Homo sapiens: one gene and its partners. The protein of the gene in region 1 interacts with the protein of each later gene in a biochemical or structural test. Each region holds a gene or a part of one and is shown in the gene's direction. Other genes may lie near its edges. The genes, in order: CSNK2A1, EIF5B, SQSTM1, CLNS1A, LRRC59, ANP32B and MAP1A.

The links.
Region 2: of the proteins of CSNK2A1 (region 1) and EIF5B, one has a biochemical effect on the other in vitro, tested with the Homo sapiens proteins (one large-scale study listed by BioGRID and IntAct).
Region 3: of the proteins of CSNK2A1 (region 1) and SQSTM1, one has a biochemical effect on the other in vitro, tested with the Homo sapiens proteins (2 studies listed by BioGRID).
Region 4: of the proteins of CSNK2A1 (region 1) and CLNS1A, one has a biochemical effect on the other in vitro, tested with the Homo sapiens proteins (one large-scale study listed by BioGRID and IntAct).
Region 5: of the proteins of CSNK2A1 (region 1) and LRRC59, one has a biochemical effect on the other in vitro, tested with the Homo sapiens proteins (one large-scale study listed by BioGRID and IntAct).
Region 6: of the proteins of CSNK2A1 (region 1) and ANP32B, one has a biochemical effect on the other in vitro, tested with the Homo sapiens proteins (one large-scale study listed by BioGRID and IntAct).
Region 7: of the proteins of CSNK2A1 (region 1) and MAP1A, one has a biochemical effect on the other in vitro, tested with the Homo sapiens proteins (one study listed by BioGRID).

Annotation. Positions count from the first base shown.
Region 1 is NC_000020.11:537,291-540,790, reverse strand, and holds part of CSNK2A1 (casein kinase II subunit alpha), read left to right. Parts: intron 1-3,500. UniProt on the Homo sapiens protein: Catalytic subunit of a constitutively active serine/threonine-protein kinase complex that phosphorylates a large number of substrates containing acidic residues C-terminal to the phosphorylated serine or threonine.
Region 2 is NC_000002.12:99,399,108-99,401,826, forward strand, and holds the end of EIF5B (eukaryotic translation initiation factor 5B), read left to right. Parts: intron 1-199; coding exon 200-307; 3' UTR 308-2,133; downstream 2,134-2,719. Other genes in the region: DNA repair protein REV1, read right to left, coding at 2,134-2,245. UniProt on the Homo sapiens protein: Plays a role in translation initiation.
Region 3 is NC_000005.10:179,823,905-179,827,404, forward strand, and holds part of SQSTM1 (sequestosome-1), read left to right. Parts: coding exon 1-183; intron 184-277; coding exon 278-419; intron 420-1,241; coding exon 1,242-1,322; intron 1,323-3,500. UniProt on the Homo sapiens protein: Molecular adapter required for selective macroautophagy (aggrephagy) by acting as a bridge between polyubiquitinated proteins and autophagosomes.
Region 4 is NC_000011.10:77,624,295-77,627,794, reverse strand, and holds part of CLNS1A (methylosome subunit pICln), read left to right. Parts: intron 1-1,976; coding exon 1,977-2,078; intron 2,079-2,724; coding exon 2,725-2,832; intron 2,833-3,500. UniProt on the Homo sapiens protein: Involved in both the assembly of spliceosomal snRNPs and the methylation of Sm proteins.
Region 5 is NC_000017.11:50,391,024-50,394,523, reverse strand, and holds part of LRRC59 (leucine-rich repeat-containing protein 59), read left to right. Parts: intron 1-1,626; coding exon 1,627-1,785; intron 1,786-2,021; coding exon 2,022-2,126; intron 2,127-3,500.
Region 6 is NC_000009.12:98,000,341-98,003,840, forward strand, and holds part of ANP32B (acidic leucine-rich nuclear phosphoprotein 32 family member B), read left to right. Parts: intron 1-3,500. UniProt on the Homo sapiens protein: Multifunctional protein that is involved in the regulation of many processes including cell proliferation, apoptosis, cell cycle progression or transcription.
Region 7 is NC_000015.10:43,520,608-43,524,107, forward strand, and holds part of MAP1A (microtubule-associated protein 1A), read left to right. Parts: intron 1-33; coding exon of another isoform or gene 34-116; intron 117-364; coding exon of another isoform or gene 365-505; intron 506-716; coding exon of another isoform or gene 717-866; coding exon 867-3,500. UniProt on the Homo sapiens protein: Structural protein involved in the filamentous cross-bridging between microtubules and other skeletal elements.

The DNA of each region.
Region 1 (3,500 bases):
TTTGTGGTAATTTGTTATGGCAGCAGTAGAACACTAGTATAGATTTTGGTACCAGGAGTGGGGTACTATTACCTAAAAATGAAAGTGGCAGTAGATAAAGGTTAGAATTGTTTTGAGGGGCATGATAGAAAAGGCCTGGAACACAGGAGGATCGCTTGAGCCCAGGAAGTCAAGGCTGCAGTGAGCGGTAATGGCACCACTGCACTCCAGCCTGGGTGGCAGAGTGAGACCCTGTCAAAAAAGAAAAGGCCTAGGACATACTTTTAGTAGCAATATGGATGTTAATGACTCTGCTAGTGAGGGCCCAGACAGAAGTGAGGTCTTTCTTATTGGAAACTGGCAGAAAGGGGATCCTTGTTACATAGTAGCAACTAAGTTTAGCAGAATTGTATCCTATGGTTATATGGAAAGCCAAATTTGCAAGTGATGAACTTGTATATTTAGCTGAGATTTCCAAGCAAAGTATTAAATGTGCAGCCTGGTTTATTTGTGAATGTGAACTTTAATGGAGTGGACCCATGTGGAATACTTCCACAGCCCATTAGGTTCTTGAGAATTTTATGCCAACATAAACAGTTCTAGTTTGGATTGAAAGAGACAGAAAGTAATAGGGCTGTTGGACCCCCCAAATTCTACTGATAGGAAGCAGGCTGATAAAACTACTCACATGTGAATGTGTTGCTTTTCATAAAAGAATCAGGGTGACTCAGACGGAGATAGGAGAGCCCAGAGGGGTGGAGCTAAAAGCTGGAGAGGATTTTTCCCAGGCTTTGAAATGGAATGGAGATTCCCTAGATTTTGAAACTGCTTTGGACCGGAGGCTCTGTTTTCTTTTACATTTTGCCCATTTGAACTGGAATGTCTAACTGTTATTCTCTACATGTCTCACAGTGGTATGTTGGGAGTAGAGAACTTGTTTCTTTAGGAATTGTGCCCCAGGAATTGGACTTACTGTTTTGTCCCCAGAACCTCATCCACACCTGAATAGATGAATGAGATTTGGGACTTCTGAAATGATAAGCTTTAGATGGGAAACCTTTGGGACCTTGGGATGGGATGGATGTATTTTGCATTTGAGAGAGAGATGAATCCTTGGAAACCAGAAGGCAGACTGCGGTAAGCAGAATGGCTCCCCTACGATTTCCATACTATAAACCCTGGAACATGAATATGTTAAGTAGATTTAATTAAAGTTAAGGATCTTAGGTAGATTATCTTGGATTTTCTGGGTGGGTTTATTCTACTCACATAAGCACTTAAAAGCAGAGAACTTTTTCTGGCTGGTGTCAGAGATGAGGCAGAAGGGGAAGTCAAATTTGAAGCATGAGAAGGACTCAGCCTGCCGTTACTGGAGGGGACCAGATTGAAAGTGTGAGACGGGGAATGCAGGCAGCCTCTAGTAGGAAAGGCCAGTCCCAGCTGACAACCAGCAAGGAAGTGGGAACTCAGTCCTACAGCTGCAAGGAACTAAATTCAGCCAATAGCTTGAATGAATGTGGAAGCAAATTTTCCCCAGAGTTTCCAGCAGGGAACCCACCCACTGGATACCCTCATTTAGCCCTTGTGAGACCCAGTCAAGCCCACTGACTTCTGTAAGATAATCCATTTGTGTTGTTTTGTTTGTGATAATTTGTTATGACACAATGGAAAACAAATACAGGGGTTTTGCTGGTTTTATTTTAGAGTCTTTGGGATATCATTTTCTAGAGAACAAAGATAGCAAAGATTCTATAAAACAATTTAGTCCTGGAAGACTCCACGGAATAATGGTGTTGAGTGGAACCTGTGCCTGTTTCTTGATGTTTGAATATTATTATTGTCCTTAGATGCAGTTTGAAGGGGCTTGATGGTCAGCTTAGTGAGATGTAGTTTCTGAAGGTCTAGGACATTGGTAGGATTTCTGTAAATAGGTGGTTCTTCCATATCTTGGATAAATGACATAATTTCTTCATTAGTTTTTATTGGCTTAATAATGGGTTTCTATGACAGCCTTTTAAGGCTTATTTCATATTTTTTTAGAGGAGATGGAAATGGGTGATACATTTTTGTGAATTTGTAACTGTCTCTCTGTTCTCTCACACCTCCCACCCCACCCCAGCTCAGCTCAAACTTGTAAGATCTTTTCTCCCTGTCATTGTCTGTTGAGGTTGTTGAGTTTAAGAGTCAGATCTGGGAATCATCACTACAGAATGGAGTTTCTAGCTTTTAAGAAAAGTCTTTTCTTTTTGTTCTTTAAAGTATCCTATTAATTGGATTCATAAAATATGGACTAACTAAACTTTAGTCAGAGGATGAAGGAAGTGAGACCATTTCTTTTGAGTTATTACCTGAATAGAAAGATGATTACAAGATTAGCATTTCAGGGTATGAAAGACTTTAGAGGTTATGTTTGACTTTGGGTTTAGAGTAAGGGAAATTGGGCCACATGAATGTTAACTGGTCTACTAAGATATCTCAGCCCTAGAGCTAGTCTAGAATCCTGGTCCAGCCAATAGAGAATCATGACTTTTGAACTATGTTCCCTGAGTACCCTTTTCTACTGTTGGCCGGGCATGGTGGCTCACACCTGTAATCCCAGTTCTTTGAGAGGCCGAGGTGGGCAGATGACTTGAGGTCAGGACAAGACCAGCCTGGCCAACATGGTAAAACCCCATCTCTACTAAAATTAGCTGAGTGTGGAGGTGCGTGCCTGTGGTCCCAGCTACTCAGGAGGCTGAGAATCACTTGAACCTGGGAGACGGAGGTTGGTTGCAGTGAGTCAAGATCACGCCACTGCACTCCAGCCTGGGGGACAGAGCAAGACTCCGTCTCAAAAAAAAAAAAAAAAGATGTTAACTGTCTATAATATTCAACTATATGACAACTTTTGCATAAATATTACAGTATGATTTGTACAAGTTCAGAAACTGAAAACCAATATGATTTGCCATTGAATTAGGTAAGGGCTTAGTATTTTAAGGTAATAAATAATGTGATACTTGATTTGAAATGAGAAACTGGGTTTTGATCTGTCACAATTCGTGGGTAACCTGGATAAGGTTTGTTTCATGAGAGTATTAATGTGTTCTTATACCTGAATTTCTTTGAACTTCTGAAATGGATAATTTCGAAAGTAGCATGTCATTTAGTTTATAGAGAAATCTAGGCCAGCCAGCTTTTCAAATGAAGAAATTCCTCTAGGATTATTAAGGAAAAGTAGCTGCTGTCATTGTAACAAAGGATGTATTTTCATTGGGTTATAGACAATTGGTAGTTTTCTTACGTTGAGTGCTCCCAGATGTACTTTTTTTTTTTCACATGTAGAAGTCAAAGATTGAGTCTTTTAAAAAGTTTAAGGTGAAAGCATTCACAGTATCACAAGATACTGCTAAGAGTGGCATTTTAACTGGTTTCTACAAATTCTGTCTTTCAGTCTTAGACATTAAAAAACCCTACGTAGCAACAGTTGCTATGGTCGGCAAGCTTCTTTACATTCGTGGTGATAATGTTTTCTTGCATAG
Region 2 (2,719 bases), on another chromosome or scaffold:
GCTAGGACTTTTAGGTCCCCTCGTGCCTGACATGCAAACCAGATGTGATTTTGGAATTCTACTCCCTTAGGCAGGCAAGCCCTGTTTTTTATTTCTGCTTAAGCTTTTTAGTACAGTGAGAGCGGGCATCTGGGGCCACAGCTTTCTTTGGCACGTTTGTTATGTTCTGTTTACCCTGTTTGTGCCTCGGGCATTGCAGATCAGCCGGCAGTCCATTGATGCACTCAAAGACTGGTTCAGAGATGAAATGCAGAAGAGTGACTGGCAGCTTATTGTGGAGCTGAAGAAAGTATTTGAAATCATCTAATTTTTTCACATGGAGCAGGAACTGGAGTAAATGCAATACTGTGTTGTAATATCCCAACAAAAATCAGACAAAAAATGGAACAGACGTATTTGGACACTGATGGACTTAAGTATGGAAGGAAGAAAAATAGGTGTATAAAATGTTTTCCATGAGAAACCAAGAAACTTACACTGGTTTGACAGTGGTCAGTTACATGTCCCCACAGTTCCAATGTGCCTGTTCACTCACCTCTCCCTTCCCCAACCCTTCTCTACTTGGCTGCTGTTTTAAAGTTTGCCCTTCCCCAAATTTGGATTTTTATTACAGATCTAAAGCTCTTTCGATTTTATACTGATTAAATCAGTACTGCAGTATTTGATTAACCAAGCTTCTGCAGATTTTGTGATTCTTGGGACTTTTTTGACGTAAGAAATACTTCTTTATTTATGCATATTCTTCCCACAGTGATTTTTCCAGCATTCTTCTGCCATATGCCTTTAGGGCTTTTATAAAATAGAAAATTAGGCATTCTGATATTTCTTTAGCTGCTTTGTGTGAAACCATGGTGTAAAAGCACAGCTGGCTGCTTTTTACTGCTTGTGTAGTCACGAGTCCATTGTAATCATCACAATTCTAAACCAAACTACCAATAAAGAAAACAGACATCCACCAGTAAGCAAGCTCTGTTAGGCTTCCATGTTAGTGTAGCTTCTCTCCCACAAGTTGTCCTCCTAGGACAAGAATTATCTTACAAACTAAACTATCATCACACTACCTTGTATGCCAGCACCTGGTAACAGTAGAGATTTTTATACATTAATCTTGATCTGTTTTAATCTTGATCTGTTTTAGTAGAGATTTTTATACATTAATCTTGATCTGTTTTAATCTTGATCTGTTTTGTCCTAGAAAATTCCATCATACACACATTTCCTGATATTTGGGCTTAGTGCTTCTAAATTGTTGCAGACACAAAACTTAATGATTCATTCGTAGTAGTAATCTGTAGCTAGTTTTAGGGTTTTGCTGAAGTCAGTGTGGGGTGTTTGTTTGAGGAAAAAGTTCCAAATATCCACTAGCATAGAATTTTAAACTATTTTTATTTTAAAGTTATGGCATAACATATAACATAAAAATATTTTATATACGTTTGAAAAATCTATACCGTTCTTTTTTATCATCAAAGTTTCTCAATGGCCAGTAGAAGCAAAAAGACAACACCACCTCTGATCTACGGGACATAATGTTCCCAGGAAAAAAATCTTCAAGTGGGTGTGAGGGTGTTTCTAATTCAAAATATGTAGATTTCTCCGCATGGAAGAAGTAGTAAAGATTTTCTTAACATGCTCCTGTGTTCATGCTTGGAGACAAGAATAAGATGGTTTAGAAGCTTTACCCTTTCTTGGAACAAGTAGAATCCCGGTCTGAGACCTCTCAGGAATTTCAGAGCTTAGCAGTCTGGCCTGGAGGTTTTTCAGCCTTTTAGTATAATAAACAGTAGTTGCTTCCTAGAGTTGAGTTTTTAAGGATTCACAAAAAGGAGCCTGTACAAAATATACATACAGTTCTTTATTAAACAACTGTAAACACTTCACTGTAAAAATCCATAAAACTTTATAAACAAACATTTTGTAAATAGAATCTATGCTACAGTAAAATAATTAACACAATTATTTACATGCAATACTGACAAATTTGGCACTTTTTGAAAAGAAATGTACAAAACACTTGCTTTAAAAGAAATTTAAAATTATAAAAACTCCGAGCATTACTATCATGCACTTTGCAAATACCTCACAAGCACTTATGGCACAGCTATCAGAGAGCATCAGGCTCTCTGGTAATATTTATGTAACTTTTAATGTGCTTCCATAAGTTTGTTGTAAAACCACCTGGACATTGTCAAGAATAAAGTCAAATGCCATATTCCAAACCGATTCCACCGATTGCTGCATCAGCCTAAAGGTGGGGAGAGAAGAAATGTCATTAGGAATTAGGAAAGGTCCTTAAGACTAATTATTCCTTTTTATATATAAAAATTGACTTTGGCAAAAAAAAAAAAAAGTCCTGGCCAGGTGCGGTGTGGCTCATGCCTGTAATCCCAGCACTTTGGGAGGCCGAGGAGGGCGGATCACCTGAGGTCAGGAGTTTGAGACCAGCCTGGCCAACATGGTAAAACCCCGTCTCTACAAAAAATAGAAAAATTAGGTGGGCATGGTGGCACATGCCTATAATCCCAGCTACCCGGGAGGCTGAGGCAGGAGAGTCACTGGAACCCAGGAGGCAGAGGCTGCAGTAAGCCAAGATCCTGCCACTGCACTCCAGCCTGGGCGACAGAGTGAGACTCCATCTCAAAAAAAATAAAATCCTAGAACACTCAAATTTTTTTTTATTTTGTTTTGAGACAAGCTGTCGATCAGGCTGGAGCCATGC
Region 3 (3,500 bases), on another chromosome or scaffold:
GCGCCCCGCAACATGGTGCACCCCAATGTGATCTGCGATGGCTGCAATGGGCCTGTGGTAGGAACCCGCTACAAGTGCAGCGTCTGCCCAGACTACGACTTGTGTAGCGTCTGCGAGGGAAAGGGCTTGCACCGGGGGCACACCAAGCTCGCATTCCCCAGCCCCTTCGGGCACCTGTCTGAGGTGAGCAGGCCCTCTGTGCAGGCCTGGGGTGGGCTCAGGGTGGCAGGAACCTTGACCCGCTCACTGCCTGCCGCTCTGCTAATTCCTCCCCCAGGGCTTCTCGCACAGCCGCTGGCTCCGGAAGGTGAAACACGGACACTTCGGGTGGCCAGGATGGGAAATGGGTCCACCAGGAAACTGGAGCCCACGTCCTCCTCGTGCAGGGGAGGCCCGCCCTGGCCCCACGGCAGAATCAGGTGAGGCTTGTGTTGGAACCTGCTTCTGATTGGTGACAGTAGTCAGGCAGCCTGTGTGCAGGGCCCTTGTGCAAAGCGTGTGTGCAAGGCAAGAATTCAGGATACCCCCCACCTTCCTGGTGCCCTACAATCACACAAGAACCCTGCAAAGTGGGGTGTATTCTCTCCATTTCCCAAATGGGGAAACTGAGGTGCCTAAGTGCCTGAGGCCACAAATTTACCTGCACAGCCCTTCCTACCTCAGGAGGCTGCCCTCTCAAGGTACCCTGAGGTGCAGGCAGGGAGGCCCTTCCAGCCCAGGGGTCTTTGATGCACTTTGTTCTCTTTTGTGATGGTTGTCAGGAAGATCAGAGCCAAAGTTGCTGAAGTCCTTTGAAACATAGTTATAAGTGAAAGACTTACCGTTAGCTTTGTAGTCTAGATTTTTGGATTCTGATTTTATTAATGTTACTGTGTCCTGTGAATCACCTCACCCTTTGGGACAAAGATGGGGATGTTTGCTTGACTTTGAGTAAATAACATATTTACTCAAGGAGGTGATCAATATTCACAGTGTACTGAGCCTGAGCCTCTGTGGGGTTGCTGAGCACCAGGGTCACAGATGAGGGGGAGATGGCACGGGAGAGTGGAGATGCTCTCTGTGCAGGGCCAGGGGGTGCAGAGTGGGAGGAAGGAGAGGGGGATGCTGAGTGGGTCACTGGACAAGATGTCCGGGTTAAAGGTCACCCGGGAACACAGGGACCTTGGCAAGAAGGTGACAGGACTGTGACAGGTATCCAAGGCATTAAAGATATCTTTATCTTATCTTTGTAAAAATCAAAGCTTCTGGTCCATCGGAGGATCCGAGTGTGAATTTCCTGAAGAACGTTGGGGAGAGTGTGGCAGCTGCCCTTAGCCCTCTGGGTGAGTGCACCTCCTTGCCCAGTGCTTCCCTAACTCAGCCTGCACTTTATGTAACTTTCACCTGGAATACTGCAAAGGAATGGGTAATTGACATGCCCTTGACACTGGTGAGGATTTGTTGCCTCAAATCAACCTTTAGTAGTGCTGGACCACGGGCAACTCAAGGTTGAATTCCCTGACAAAATTCTCGAGCTTTCTACATGGAGTGAAGTCGAATCAGCTGGCATTTGGTTGGGATAATCCCAGTGAGGGAGGGTGACCAGACTGTGGTTGCAGGTCTTGCCTGTCACCTCTGACTGCCCTCCTTTGGATGAACAATAGTCTGCAATTTCCCCTAAGCCAGGCCTTGGGATTTGGACTTTTGAGGACCTGGGTAGTAGTTAGTTGACATGCTATTTATCTTTTCCTTCTTTTAGTTTACAACCCCCAAACCTTTCTGGTGCTTCTGAGTGCTGGGCCTGCCTCAGAGCGGGGAGAAGGTGGAGGCAGGTGCTCTGGGTGACACCCGGTTCTGGTGCCTCAGGTTGCACAGTGGGTCTGTGGGGTGGGTGAAGGTGCCACCTGACCCCAGGCATGAGCTCAGGCTCTGAGACCCCTCCCTGCTGGGCTTTAGAAAGTGCCTGTTGCGTCTGGCTAAGGGTCTCGGGTGGGTGCTGCAGGGTTAGGCATGCGGCAGTGAGAATCAGTGAATGAAGCCAACTTCTAGTTCAAGATGACGGTGGATCTGTGATGGCAGATGGATCGCTGGGACACCTGCATCTCTCGCTAGACGAGTGAGCTTGTTTTTGTGACTGCAGTGGCAGGCTGTGTCCACCCAGCCTGTCCAAAGGTTGTGTTCAGTGTCTGAAAGAATGCTGCTAGGAGGGGCGTCCGAACCATGCCTGCTGCCTCCTGTGGCTACAGGGCGTGACTGCCATCTGCTCCAACTTTGCTCATTCCGATTTTTTTTTTTTTTTGAGATGGAGTCTTGCTCTGTCACGGAGGCTGGAGTGCAGTGGTGCCATCTCTGCTCACTGCAACCTCCCCCTCCTGGGTTCAAGTGATTCTCCTGCTTCAGCCTCCTGGGTAAGTGGGATTACAGGTACCCGCCACCACGCCCAGCTAAGTTTTGTATTTTTTTAGTAGAGACGGGGTTTCGCCACGTTGGCCAGGCTGGTCTTGAACTTCTGACCTCAGGTGATCCACCCGTCTTGGCCTCCCAAAGTGCTGGGATTACAGGTGTGAACCACTGCGCCTGGCCTTGCTCATTCCACTTTGAGGCGGCAGTGACATCTTGGCATTGCTTCTGAACTAAACAGCCCAAACACGCATGGCTTCTGTACTAGAGTTTAGAGGTGAAGTCAGAGAATAGGAAAGAAGAATCGCTAGTCTGTTTTTTTTTTTTTTTCTTTGAGACAGACTTTCACCCTTGTCGCCTAGGCTGGAGTGCAGTGGTGTGATCTCGGCTCACTGCAACCTCTGCCTTCCAGGTTCAAGCGATTCTCCTGCCTCAGCCTCCCAAGTAGCTGGGATTATAGGTGCCCACCACAACGCCTAGCTATTTTTTGTATTTTTAGTAGAGACGGGGTTTCACTGTGTTGGCCAGGCTGATCTCGACACCTGCCTCGGCCTCCCAAAGTGCTGGGATTACAGGTGTGAGCCACCGAGCCCGGCCAAGAATCAGTATTCTTAATGCTTTCCAAGGAGGGTAAACAGTGGAACACCGAGGTCATGATTGAGAGATCGGCTGTGCCTAAATCCTGCCACTCACTCTGGACGTAGTAAAGGTCTGAGAGATTGCCGGTGAATTTGGAGATATGAACAAGAGTCCTTCACTCAAAGAACAAAGGAGACATCCCGGGAAGTCACAAAACCAAGTCTAGGTTCAGGTAGAGACTTTTAAAACAGTGCAGATCCCCAGACCTTACCTTTTTTGATCCTGGTGAGTGAGTGTTGGTGGGGCCTGGGATTTGTCTGGGAGGCTGCCCAGGTGCTTGGGGTCACACTGTCTCAAGACCCACCTGTGCTGGTGCAGCATCTCGGAACTGAACTGGACGCCCCACTTGGCACAGACAGGAATAATCTTGCAGATGCTCAGATGTCTTTTTTTTTCTGAGACGGAGTCTCGCTCTGTTGCCCAGGCTGGAGTGCAGTGGCACGATCTTGGCTCCTGGGTTCACGCCATTCTCCTGTCTCAGC
Region 4 (3,500 bases), on another chromosome or scaffold:
TTGCATTTCTCTGAGCCTGAATTTCATCCAAAAAGTTAAGGGAGTATATTAGTCTCTTGTTCCCAAACTCAAGACTAATGGATACACATTAGAAATACATGGGAAGCTTGTTTAAAATGCAAATGCTCTGAGTCCTAAACTAGGAAAAAGCAGTTCAGTAGGTTTTAGGGTGTGTGTTTTAAATATGTGCTCTATAATCATACAGAATCTATATGATTGGTTGTAATTGATGTGATTATGATTAATCCTTTCTTAGTAAGATATGCAGGATTTCCTATCTTACTAGAAATTAGTATCTTTCTGGGTCACATTTATTTCACTAATTCTCCAGTTCCTTTTTTTTTTTTCTTTTTTTTTGAGATGGAGTCTTGCTCTGTCGCCAGGCTGGAGTGCAGTGATGCGATCTTGACTCACTGCAACCTCTGCCTCCTGGGTTCAAGCGATTCTTCTGCCTCAGCCTCCCGAGTAGCTGGGACTACAGGCTCCCGCCACCACGCCCCGCTAATTTTTTTTTTTTTGTATTTTAGTAGAGTTGGGGTTTCACTGTGTTGGCCAGGATGCTCTCCATCTCCTGACCTCATGATCCACCCACCTCAGCCTCCCAAAGGGCTGGGATTACAGGCGTTAGCCACCTCGCTTGGCCCTTTAGTTCTTTTTATCTTAAACTCCTCTCATAAATTACATGTGCTTGAATCATATTTTCCCAGCCTTTGTTCCTTGCATTCTGATTCTCTAAGCTCTAAGTTTTTTTTTTTTCTCTTTGGCATACCTCTGTAAGTCTCTTTAAAAATGACCATCAGGGCTGGGCGCGGTGGCTCACACCTGTAATCCCAGCACTTTGGGAGGCTGAGGCGGGCGGATCACGAGGTCAGGAGATCAAGACCATTCTGGCTAACACGGTGAAACCCCGTCTTTACTAAAAAAAATACAAAAAAATTAGCCAGGTGTGGTGGCGGGCGCCTGTAGTCCCAGCTACTCAGGAGGCTGAGGCAGGAGAATGGGGTGAACCCAAGAGGCAGAGCTTGCAGTGAGCCGAGATGGCACCACTGCAGTCCAGCCTGGGCGACAGAGCAAGACTCCGTCTCAAAAAAAAAAAAATGACCATCAGGACCGGGCATAGTGGCTCACATCTGTAACCCCAGCATTTTTTTTTTTTGTGATGGAGTCTCACCCTGTCACCTAGGCTGGAGTGCGATGCTGTGATCTTGGCTCACTGCAACCTCCACCTCCCAGGTTCAAATGATTCTCCTGCCTCAACCTCCTGAGTAGCTGGGATTATAGGCGCCTGCCACCACGCCTTGCTAATTTTTGTATTTTTAGTAGAGACGGGGTTTCACCATATTGGCCAGGCTGGACTCAAACTCCTGACCTCGTGATCCGCCCACCTCGGCCTCCCAAAGTGCTGGGATTACAGGCGTGAGCCACCGTGCCCAGCCACAATCCCAGCATTTTGAATGGCCAAGACAGGAGGATCACTTGAGCCCAGGAGTTTCAGACCAGCCTGGGCAACATCGTAAGACCCCATCTCAAAAAAACAAAAATTAGCAGGGTGTGGTGGCAAGTGCCTGTAGTCCCAGCTGCTTAGTAGGCTGAGGTGGGAGGATCGCTTGGGCCTGAGAGGGCAAGGGTGTCCAGTCTGGGCAACAAAACAAGTCCCAGTCTCAGAAAAAAAAGTTGACCCTTAGCTCATTGTTGATGAGATTAGATTACCTTAAAAATAACCTTAAAAATTCATTCCCGGTGAGGCGCGGAGGGAGCACTTTGGGAGGCCAAGGTGCGTGGATCTCGAGGTCAGGAGATCGAGGCAAGGCTTTTCTAGGATGCTCACTGTATAATCAGAATTTTTCAACCATAATTGGAAATAAATTTGTCAACCATAATTGGAAATTAAAATTGAATTGCAATATTCAGATTTTCAATATGCTTCATTTTTTTAAAGTCAAATAATGACATTAAAAGGGTATTTTATTTTCTAGAAGAATCAAAAGAACCTGTTGCTGATGAAGAAGAGGAAGACAGTGATGATGATGTTGAACCTATTACTGAATTTAGATTTGTGCCTAGTGATAAATCAGCGTGTGAGTGTTCTACAGTATTGATTCTTCCCCTTTTACATACCAAGCATTCCCAATTGACACACACACACATACACACACACACACACCTCTCACCTTTACCACCATTACCTCCATTCTATTGCTTTTTCTTTATTTTAGCATTGGTAATATCATTAAGGACCAAATACCTATTAATATCAAAGGTTGTGAATGTAGTGAGAATATTGTAGACACTCTGTCATCTGGGTATATTTTGTGAGTGGACTCTGGTTAGTTTTACTGATTGGTGCTGTTGACTTAATCTCACCTGCTGGATGGCAGAGGAGTTATGGCAGTTTTAAAGTGGAAGATCTCAGGATGGCTGGAAAGAGCCCTATCAGCTGAGAGCAGTCTTCACCCTTCACCCTGATGCCAGCAGTCTTACCAGGACTCTGACCCTTTTTTCTTGGAAAATCCCACGAGCCATGAAGAGATTGCAATGATCTCTCATAATGAACTCTTATTATTTTATGACTTGTCTTTTGCTTCAACCGCTTTCAAGATTGATCTTACAATTTGGCAGATTTTGTAAATACTGTGGCGTTTTGTGTACCCATTAAATTTATTTGCACTGATGGTTACTTTTATTACAAAAAAAGATTGGTTACAGTTTAATTTCCTTGTTCAGTGGAGGCAATGTTCACTGCAATGTGCGAATGCCAGGCCTTGCATCCAGATCCTGAGGATGAGGATTCAGATGACTACGATGGAGAAGAATATGATGTGGAAGCACATGGTTAGTGAAATGGATTTTAAAGTGGGTTTTTTGTTTGTTTAGTGTTTCATTTTAAGCATTTATTTGTATTAAGGGTAGAGGATTATAGTTCTTTATATGACTGTAAAGTATGCAGTATGGTAAAATTATTATTATTATTTTTGAGATGGAGTTTTCGCTTTTGTTGCCCAGGCTGGAGTGCAATGGCGTGGTCTCGGCTCACTGCAACCTCTGCCTCCTAGGTTCAAGCGATTCTCCTGCCTCAGCCTTCCAAGTAGCTGGGATTACAGGCATGCGCCACCACGCCAGGCTAATTTTGTATTTTTAGTAGAGATGGGGTTTCTCCATGTTGGTCAGGCTGGTCTTGAACTCCCGACCTCAGGTGATCCGCCTGCCTCGGCCTCCCAAAGTGCTGGGATTACAGGTGTGAGCCACTGTGCCTGGCTGGTAAGATTATTATTAAAATAGAATGACACGGTAGAACACTTTATGCCAAAGCCCTTTGCAACAGACAAATTTTTGAGTGTAAGAAATAGAGATTGTTATGGGGAAGAATGGGTAAGTAGAGCATATGGGAGGAAAGAAAATGGTAGATAGGGAAGTGGATGGTCAGGAAAGTCTTTTAAGCTGAGGCAGCTGCCCCCAGAGAACAAGCTTCTCTCTCTACACCTTGAGAACCTGGATCATTT
Region 5 (3,500 bases), on another chromosome or scaffold:
CTTGTGCATCTTTTGATGGGGAGCAAGAAAGAAGGTGATTTTATGGGCTACCTTATCATTATTCTCCCAAAGGACTTGAATTAGTTGAGATTTGCTCAATGTGGTCAGCACATTCAATCCATGATCAAATCCTTTTTATTTTTCTTGCACAACGTCTGCTAGTTTTCCTTCCACTCCACCTGTGTAGACAGTGGATTCATTCAGCCCCTCAGCCTCTCTGACATAGTAGTGCTCCTGCACCGTCAGGCCTAAGTGTGCTATTGCCACTTCCACCCATCACTCTAGCCGTGCCACTCCTTGCTGTACTCCAGGGTGACTTCCTATTTGGCCCTGGCTGTGGCTCAGAGGTCGAATTCAGAAGTTGGCAATGTCCTCATTGGATTATTAGTCCACTCACCTCTCAGTATTCTCCTAGGCCTTGCTCATCGTCCACAGTACCTTGTCACAGCTCATCAAAAACTGTTTCTAACATTCAAAAAGCATCGAGATCTCACTTCTTCCAGAAAGTATTTTGTGTTGAATAAAAGAAGAATATGTTGGGAGCTGTGGTTCATGCCTATAATCCCAGTAACTCAGGAGGCTGAGGTGGGAGAATCACTTAGCCCAGGAGTTTGAGAGCAGCCTGGACAACATAGCAAGATCCCGCCTCTAAAAAATTAAAAATAAAAGCAGGTTAGCAATTCCTTGCAGCCGCACTCCTTCTGTACACTTTGCCAGATGGTCATTCAGCCAAGTGCACTTTTCGATCTGAGCTTGTTCTGTTGTCTGTACTGACAACTTCCATTTCACTCTGCATTTCAGATCCACTGGCATTTCCAAGTCCCTAGAGAGCATGAATAGTGCCTCATTAGCTGAGGTTGTACCATCGCTTTCAGATGGGTGCTTAGCAAAGGTTTAATGTCAGGGGGATGTTTTGACCTGTGTTGAGAAAGAGCCAGGACTTGGGTAGGATGGACCCCAGCCCGTTCAGTTAGTTATTCACAGAATGTCTGTTGAGCACCTGTGTTAAGTACTGTGCTAGGTGCTGCAAATAACAAGAATCAGACTGAGTACTCCAGGAGTGCCTGATCTTTTTAAGAAAATGAACGAGCACGCTGTTTTGACAGATCCTATGAATGGTGAGCATAGGGTGCTGTGGAAGGACAGAATGGGTAACCACACCTCTCCAGGAGCAGTGTGGAGGGTAGGCTGGAGCAAGAACTGAGGGTGAAGGAATAGTGTTTTGTGCCTACTTTGTGCTAAGCCCTTTTCCATACATATCTTGGTAATTATCACCAGGTGTGGTAGGTGTTCTCTGCATTTTCATTTGAGGAAGAACGGCTGCTAACAGTAGAGCCAGGATTTTTACATGGGGTACCTCTGACTTGAGGGCTTCCAGACTGTTACACCGAAGTGTGTGAGCCCAAGGCTTAGATGAGGAGTTTCCAATCTTGTGGCTTCCCTGGGCCACATTGGAAGAAGAAGAGTTGTCTTGGGCTACACATGAAATACACTGATGAGCTGAAAAAGGAAAAAAAATCTCGTAATGTTTTAAGAAAGGTTACAAATTTGTATTGGGCCACATTTAAAGCTGTCGTGGCTCGTGTGTTGGACAAGCCTAGCTTAGGTTCTCTCTTTGGATCCTAGTCGGATTTCTGTGGCCTCACACACCTGGTGAAGCTAGACCTGAGTAAGAACAAGCTGCAGCAGCTGCCAGCAGACTTTGGCCGTCTGGTCAACCTCCAGCACCTGGATCTCCTCAACAACAAGCTGGTCACCTTGCCTGTCAGCTTTGCTCAGCTCAAGGTAACAATTCATGAACCAGTGTTTCATGGCCAGGGTGGCAGAGAACTCAGGGACTCTGGAGCACGGCCCTGAGAAAGGCTGACAGAAATACCCCCTTGTTGGTCCTGCCTCAGATGGCGCTCCCTATATGTGGAACACAGAGGGGCATTCTTCCTGCTCATTTTGTTTCACCCTGAGGGACTATGTATGTGAACTCGGGCTTAATGAGCCTCTTTGCCCATCGCCCATCTCTTTAGAACCTGAAGTGGTTGGACCTGAAGGATAACCCCCTGGATCCTGTCCTGGCCAAGGTGGCAGGTGACTGCTTGGATGAGAAGCAGTGTAAGCAGTGTGCAAACAAGGTAAGCACCAAGCTCCCTCCCAGTGGCTCCTTATACACTCCCTGGGATTTCTCCTCCTCCTGTTTTTCCCTCCTAGGGCACCTGGAGCTTTGTGTGGAGTTAAGCATTCAGGTCCGAGTGAAATATGTCCACTATGAGCCTGTCAAACAGAGACCTTTGTTTCTGCATTTACTTTATCTTTTTGTTTTTTATTTGTTTTGAGACAGAGTTGCTCTGTTGCCCAGGTTGGAGTGCAAGTGGCACAATCTCGGCCCACTCCAACCTCCGCCTCCCAGGTTCAAGCGATTCTCCTGCCTCAGCCTCCCGAGTAGCTGAGATTACAGACGCCTGCTACCATGCTCAGCTAATTTTTGTATTTTTTAGTGGAGATGGTGTTTCGCCACGTTGGCCAGGCTGGTCTCCAACTCCCGACCTCAAATGATTCGCCCACCTTGGCCTTCCAAAGTGCTGGGATTATAGGCGTGAGCCACCATGCCTGGCCTGCACTTAGTTCGCAAGTCGCAGAACAAGACTGCCTTCTCTACTGCAGTACTTCCTCTCTTAAGGAGCCGGGACCTTGCGTGATGCAACATGACACTGTGTGGACAGTTGTTTTAATAGTACCGGGGGTTAGGGGCTGTGGCCTTTCTGAGGCACAGTCGTAGGAATGTTGATAATAAAAGCGATGATAAAGGTGTTACAGCTGTAAGCAGGCACGTCCTGGGCAGACCTGGTATTTGATTACAGTTGAGTCATCTGACATAGGAGTGAGGAACTGAAAGCAGCATGCAAGACAACTATTGTCTGTGGTCAGTAGCCTGGAAGGTGCCGTACCCTACCTATTAAGAACAGCATTACACCTATCTCTTAATAACTCCAACTATAGTCACTTTTTCCCTCCAGCTTTGGAACAGATTGCTGCTGCTTCAGCTGAGCACCAGATGACTAACTTGGCTATGTTTAAGGTGCATGTTGAACAAAAAAGACTTAACTTTAAATACTAGAATTCATGGGTGAATGATGAGTCTCTGCTGTCTCAAGTAGAGAGTAAGAGAGTAAGATACTTCTTATCATTAGCTCAGGGCTTCTTATATAATCTTGTCATCTGTATCATCTCTTATTACAACAAATCAAGCACAAAGTTAACCAAGTAGCTAAGACAAGAGTTTTCCCTTAGATGAGAACAGTATAAGTGATCAGTGAAATCCTCTTTTGAAAACTAGGTGCTGTAGGAGTGATGTCTGTTCTGCAAGCTGACAGTAGCTACCATTGATTACTCTTTCCTTGTCCTGGATGCTTTCCATGCACCATCTCACAATCCTCAGAGCCCTGAGGAGTCGGCATTACTTTCATTTCTCTGACACAAGAAACCCTCAGCATATACACACCTTTCAT
Region 6 (3,500 bases), on another chromosome or scaffold:
TGTGATGCCTCACCAGTGCTCCATGCATTTTGCCCTTTTTCCTATTACAGGTATACCCAGATACTCGGGCTCTTACTAGTTTTATTCGTTTCCTTCAAACCAACCCCCATTTCCAGTATTTAAGCCGACATTTACTGACTTTTGCTGCATCCAAGGACATGAACATTTGCCCATTGTATCCTTAAGTAACCCAGAGAAGAGAGAATGACTGTCCTCTTTTTAGAGATGAGGAAGCTGAGTTTAGAGAATGTAGATAATTGCTCAGGAGAAATGGCAGAGTAGGGATTCAAATCTAAGTCTAGGCTGGGCACGGTGGTTCACGCCTGTAATCCCAGCACTTTGGGAGGCCGAGGCGGGCAGATCACTTGAGGTCAGGAGTTTGAGACCAGCCTGGCCAACGTGAAACCCCATCTCTACTAAAAATACAAAAAAGTACCCAGGCGTGGTGGCAGGCGCCTATAATTCCAGCTACTTGGGAGGCTGAGGCAGGAGAATCACTTGAACCCAGGAGGCGAAGGTTGCAGTGAGCTGAGATCATGCCTCTGCACTCCAGCCTGGGTGACAGAACAAGACTCCATCTCAAAAAAAAAAAAAAAAAAATTCGAAGTCTGCTGTGTTTTCCATAGCCCTTGGGACCTCTTCTTCTCTTTCCACCTGTAAATTTATTTCATGCCCAAATTTCCTTAAGCTGGGAATTCCAACAGGAGCACCAAATTTTAACTGCTGATGCTTTCCCGTTCACATGGGCTACACTAAGCCTTTGTTTATTGGTTAGTGACAGACATACTAATCCTAGGTTGTGAGCATAAGAAACCCTTCTCCCCGCCACCCCCCTTTTTTTTTCTGGTTTAATTTTTTTTTTTTTTTTTTAGACGGAGTCTCGCTCTGTCACCCAGGCTGGAGTGCAGTGGCGCCATCTCGGCTCATTGCAAGCTCCGCCTTCTGGGTTCACGCCATTCTCCTGCCTCAGCCTCCCAAGTAGCTGGGACTACAGGCACCTGCCACCATGCCTGGCTAAGTTTTTTGTATTTTTAGTAGAGATGGGGTTTCACTGTGTTTGCCAGGATGGTCTCGATCTCCTGAGCTCGTGATCCGCCTGCCTCAGCCTCCCAAAGCGCTGGGATTACAGGCGTGAGCCACCATGCCTGGCCTTCTCTTTTAATTTTTAAAGAACAGAGTAGCAGGCAGTACCTTTTCACTGTTGGCCAGTTGATGACTGGCCATTACCTAGTTCTCGTGGCAGCCTGAATCCTCTGATTATCAGAAGCCTTTTTCAGTGTTGTAGCACACAGCAATGGAGCAGAAGCAAATACTGTGTGGGAGTTGTTTGCTTGAGTTTTTTCCTGATCTGGTCAGTAATGTATGAGAGGACCCTCTGGTGGCTGTGAAAGTCTCAGTCCCCCAGGATAGTGAAGGATAAAAAGTAATCTTCGTTGTGTTCACCATTTTTAGAGGATCTGCTATACCCATACATTTACTGGGTGCTTTATGCATGTTTTATTAGTAATTGTAAAAAAAAAAACCTTCGATACAAAGTGGATAGAAATAGCATGGCCCTTGTTTTATATTGAGGAAGCTAAGGCTTGGGTGAGGCTGAATCCCTTGTCCAGAGTCACACACCCTGTGGCAGAGCCACAGGGCTACACACCAGAGCTATTTCGAAAAGCCTGGGGTCCCGCCATTCTGCTATACTTGGCACTCAGATTCCTGGCGGTGCTAGGTTGGTCTCCTGAAGTTCTAACTTGGAATTAAGTAAATCTGTAGGAGAAGGTGAAGGGGGGAAGAGTTGGGTCCATTTTGACTTCTGGCAGTATTCTTCAGTGGGGAAAAACACCATCCTCATCCTCATTAACCACATACATTTTGAACACCGTCTACTTTGAGCCCAGTTCTTATAGTCAATGCAATGATTGTGAATGCCTCTGCTTGCTACAGGGACATTAATCGAGAGACAAAGAAGGCATCAATTCAAACTTCCTTGGACACCTTTTTTAAGAGACCTGGGCCATCCAAACCATCCCCCAAAGCCCTTCTAAATTCTAAGAAGGCAAGCAAAATTATTGTTAATAAAATGTTTAATGTTTATTATGGCTAGCCTATTAGCTTACATCAAATTTCTGGTATGGTAGAGTTGTAATTTTTTTTAATCAGTATTTACACATTACATTGGGATCCTGAATAATCTGTGTGTAGTGTATTTTGTGCCTATTGGGCCTTAAAGCACAATTTTACTACTTTCAGCAGTTCCAGAGTACTACAGTTATTTGGGATTTTTGTTGTTTTCTTGCTTTCATTTCATTTTTCAAACTACTGATTGGCATGTCCAAATTGTTTGAGAAGGGGTGCTTTGCCAGGAAGTAGCCAAAAATCTCACATAATTGTACAGTTTCAGAAACAGGAGAGCCTTGGAGGCCCTGTGTACTGGAAGAGTCAATGAAACTAGATAGAGAAAGGGCTTTTGGTATTAAAAAGCATTAGATAAATATCAGAGGTTGTATGTGTTTTTGTGCACCTATTTCTAGGAAATAATTCTGAAATATAAATGGCTCATTCCTTTAAGTGGAGAATTTTTAGAGTGAACCTTTTTGGAAAAGCTGCCTAAAGCTGACTCTAGCTGGCATCGAGTCAGCCTTTGTGAAGAGAAAGCCAGTATGCTAGCTAGCCATCTGGGGTGGCATTGCAGCATTTTTTTCCTCTTTGGCAAGAAGTCATACCTGGGCTTCTGGAAGTCAGGGCCTGACTGGAAGGGAAGCTAATCTGAAAATTACATGATACAAAAGCAGCTCTATGACCAGAAGGGCTGGGGACAGCTTTCTTAAAACGTCAAGGAACTGACTATATAAGCACATTGTTTGATCCACAGACTCTTGGATCATTGTACAATTTGTGTTTTGAGGGGTGCAACGTTTTCCTGTTGCTGTAACCCTGCTGTGTGTTCCCTGCATGAATAAAACAAGTGTGGGAGCCTCTTTCTTCATCAAGAAGATGAAGTTCTTCATGTGCAGGGGTCAGTAGCCCTTTTCTCTAAGGGCCAAATAGTAGGTTCATTTGGCTTTGTAGCCTGTTTATATAGTCTCTGTCACAACTAGTCTGCTTGGCCATTTTAGTACATAAGGAGCCATACATAAATAAATGAGTGTGACTGTGTTCCAATGGAGCTTATTTTACAAAAACAAGTGGTGGGCCAGAATTGGCCACTGGACCACCGGTTCCCAACCCCTGCTCTAGAGCCTTGAGGCAGATTTTCACACCATTTTATATCTCCTCAGAACTACATAGATACCTTGAGTTCTGAAAATAAGGTTTTGTTTTGTCTGCATTTCTTCTCAGGTCCTTGTGAGTGTTGTAACAGCTTTCCTAATAAAGCAGCAAAACCTGTTAAGCATCAACATTTATTTTTTTAGAAATTATTTTATGTGGAGGTCCTCTTAAAGTTTGTTTGGGTGTTTTTAGTACTATCTTCTTAGAGAATACCGAAGTTTTTCTCTTGATTCAGAACC
Region 7 (3,500 bases), on another chromosome or scaffold:
TTCTCAATATAAATTCCTACATCTCTCCCTCAGGCCAGAGGACCCTTTGCCACCAGAGTGAGATCCTAGAGACCATCATCCTGGTAAATCCCAGTGCAGACAGCATCAGCTCTGAGGTAAGGCCAGGGCCTGTGCCTTGCCAAACAGGCCTGGTGCAAGTGCTATACCCACCCTTGCCAGTGCTACCACTATTAGGCCAAGAATTCCTCTCTCTGCCATCTAAGCTGACGTATTGTCTCCAGCCCACTCTGGAGGTGTTATGAGGGACATAAGTTGGGAGCATGTTCTTGAGGTACTGAGGGGCCATTCATTGCCTTTCCCTGGATTTCCTATATCTGTGACCACTCCCCTTCTTCCATTCCAGGTTCATCATCTTCTTAGCAGCTCATCAGCTTATAAACTACTAATCTTGAGTGGGCAAAGTTTAGAGCCTGGGGGAGACCTCATCCTACAGAGTGGCACCTACTCATATGAAAACTTTGCCCAGGTCCTTCACAACCCCGAGGTAAGTTCCATGCCAGAGTGTCTGGGAGAAAGGGTAGCACTAGAGCTGTGGGAGGGATCTAAGGGAAAGTCTCATATTGCATGACCATGGGGGGCCCTGGCAGAAAGGTAAGAGTCCACCTTGGAAAGAGGTGAAGATTAGGGTACTGAATCTAAGTCAGACCAAAACAACTCTAGTGACCTGATCAGGTTTCTATCTCCTATTCTTCTAGATTTCCCAATTGCTCAGCAATAGAGACCCTGGGATACAGGCCTTCCTTACCGTGTCCTGCTTAGGGGAAGGTGATTGGAGCCACCTGGGATTATCCAGTTCCCAAGAGACCCTGCACCTCCGGCTAAACCCTGAGCCCACTCTGCCCACCATGGACGGCGTGGCTGAGTTCTCCGAGTATGTCTCTGAGACTGTGGACGTGCCATCCCCATTTGACCTACTAGAGCCCCCCACCTCAGGGGGCTTCCTCAAGCTCTCCAAGCCTTGTTGCTACATCTTCCCAGGTGGTCGTGGGGACTCTGCCCTCTTTGCTGTCAATGGTTTCAACATCCTGGTGGATGGTGGCTCTGATCGCAAGTCCTGTTTTTGGAAGCTGGTACGGCACTTGGACCGCATTGACTCGGTGCTACTCACACACATTGGGGCAGACAACCTGCCAGGCATCAATGGACTACTGCAGCGCAAAGTGGCAGAGCTAGAGGAGGAGCAGTCCCAGGGCTCTAGCAGTTACAGCGACTGGGTGAAGAACCTTATCTCTCCTGAGCTTGGAGTTGTCTTTTTCAACGTGCCTGAGAAGCTGCGGCTTCCTGATGCCTCCCGGAAAGCCAAGCGTAGCATTGAGGAGGCCTGCCTCACTCTGCAGCACTTAAACCGCCTGGGCATCCAGGCTGAGCCTCTATATCGTGTGGTCAGCAATACCATTGAGCCACTGACCCTCTTCCACAAAATGGGTGTGGGCCGGCTGGACATGTATGTCCTCAACCCTGTCAAGGACAGCAAGGAGATGCAGTTCCTCATGCAAAAGTGGGCAGGCAATAGTAAAGCCAAGACAGGCATCGTGCTGCCCAATGGGAAGGAGGCTGAGATCTCCGTGCCCTACCTTACCTCTATCACTGCTCTGGTGGTCTGGCTACCAGCCAATCCCACTGAGAAGATTGTGCGTGTGCTTTTTCCAGGAAATGCTCCCCAAAACAAGATCTTGGAGGGCCTAGAAAAGCTTCGGCATCTGGACTTCCTGCGTTACCCTGTGGCCACGCAGAAGGACCTGGCTTCTGGGGCTGTGCCTACCAACCTCAAGCCCAGCAAAATCAAACAGCGGGCTGATAGCAAGGAGAGCCTCAAAGCCACTACCAAGACGGCCGTGAGCAAGTTGGCCAAACGGGAGGAGGTGGTAGAAGAGGGAGCCAAGGAGGCACGTTCAGAGCTGGCCAAGGAGTTAGCCAAGACAGAGAAGAAGGCAAAAGAGTCATCTGAGAAGCCCCCAGAGAAGCCTGCCAAGCCTGAGAGGGTGAAGACAGAGTCAAGTGAGGCACTGAAGGCAGAGAAGCGAAAGCTGATCAAAGACAAGGTAGGGAAAAAGCACCTTAAAGAAAAGATATCAAAGCTGGAAGAAAAAAAAGACAAGGAGAAAAAAGAGATCAAAAAGGAGAGGAAAGAGCTCAAGAAGGATGAAGGAAGGAAGGAGGAGAAGAAGGATGCCAAGAAGGAGGAGAAGAGGAAAGATACCAAACCTGAGCTCAAGAAGATTTCCAAGCCAGACCTAAAGCCCTTTACTCCTGAGGTACGTAAGACCCTCTATAAAGCCAAGGTCCCTGGAAGAGTCAAAATAGACAGGAGCCGTGCTATCCGTGGGGAGAAGGAGCTGTCTTCTGAGCCCCAGACACCCCCAGCCCAGAAGGGAACTGTACCACTCCCAACCATCAGTGGGCACAGGGAGCTGGTCCTATCCTCACCAGAGGACCTCACACAGGACTTTGAGGAGATGAAGCGTGAGGAGAGGGCTTTGCTGGCTGAACAAAGGGACACAGGACTAGGAGATAAGCCATTCCCTCTAGACACTGCAGAGGAGGGACCCCCAAGTACAGCTATCCAGGGAACACCACCCTCTGTTCCAGGGCTGGGACAAGAAGAACATGTGATGAAGGAGAAAGAGCTTGTCCCAGAGGTCCCTGAGGAACAAGGCAGCAAGGACAGAGGCCTAGACTCTGGGGCTGAAACAGAGGAAGAGAAAGATACCTGGGAGGAAAAGAAGCAGAGGGAAGCAGAGAGGCTCCCAGACAGAACAGAAGCCAGAGAGGAAAGTGAACCTGAAGTAAAGGAGGATGTGATAGAAAAGGCTGAGTTAGAAGAAATGGAGGAGGTACACCCTTCAGATGAGGAGGAAGAGGACGCGACAAAAGCTGAGGGTTTTTACCAAAAACATATGCAGGAACCCTTGAAGGTAACTCCAAGGAGCCGGGAGGCTTTTGGGGGTCGGGAATTGGGACTCCAGGGCAAGGCCCCTGAGAAGGAGACCTCGTTATTCCTAAGCAGCCTGACCACACCTGCAGGAGCCACTGAGCATGTCTCTTACATCCAGGATGAGACAATCCCTGGCTACTCAGAGACTGAGCAGACCATCTCAGATGAGGAGATCCATGATGAGCCGGAGGAGCGCCCAGCTCCACCCAGATTTCATACAAGTACATATGACCTGCCCGGGCCTGAAGGTGCTGGCCCATTCGAAGCCAGCCAACCTGCCGATAGTGCTGTTCCTGCTACCTCTGGCAAAGTCTATGGAACGCCAGAGACTGAACTCACCTACCCCACTAACATAGTGGCTGCCCCTTTGGCTGAAGAGGAACATGTGTCCTCGGCCACTTCAATCACTGAGTGTGACAAACTTTCTTCCTTTGCCACATCAGTGGCTGAGGACCAATCTGTGGCCTCACTTACAGCTCCCCAGACAGAGGAGACAGGCAAGAGCTCCCTGCTGCTTGACACAGTCACAAGCATCCCTTCCTCC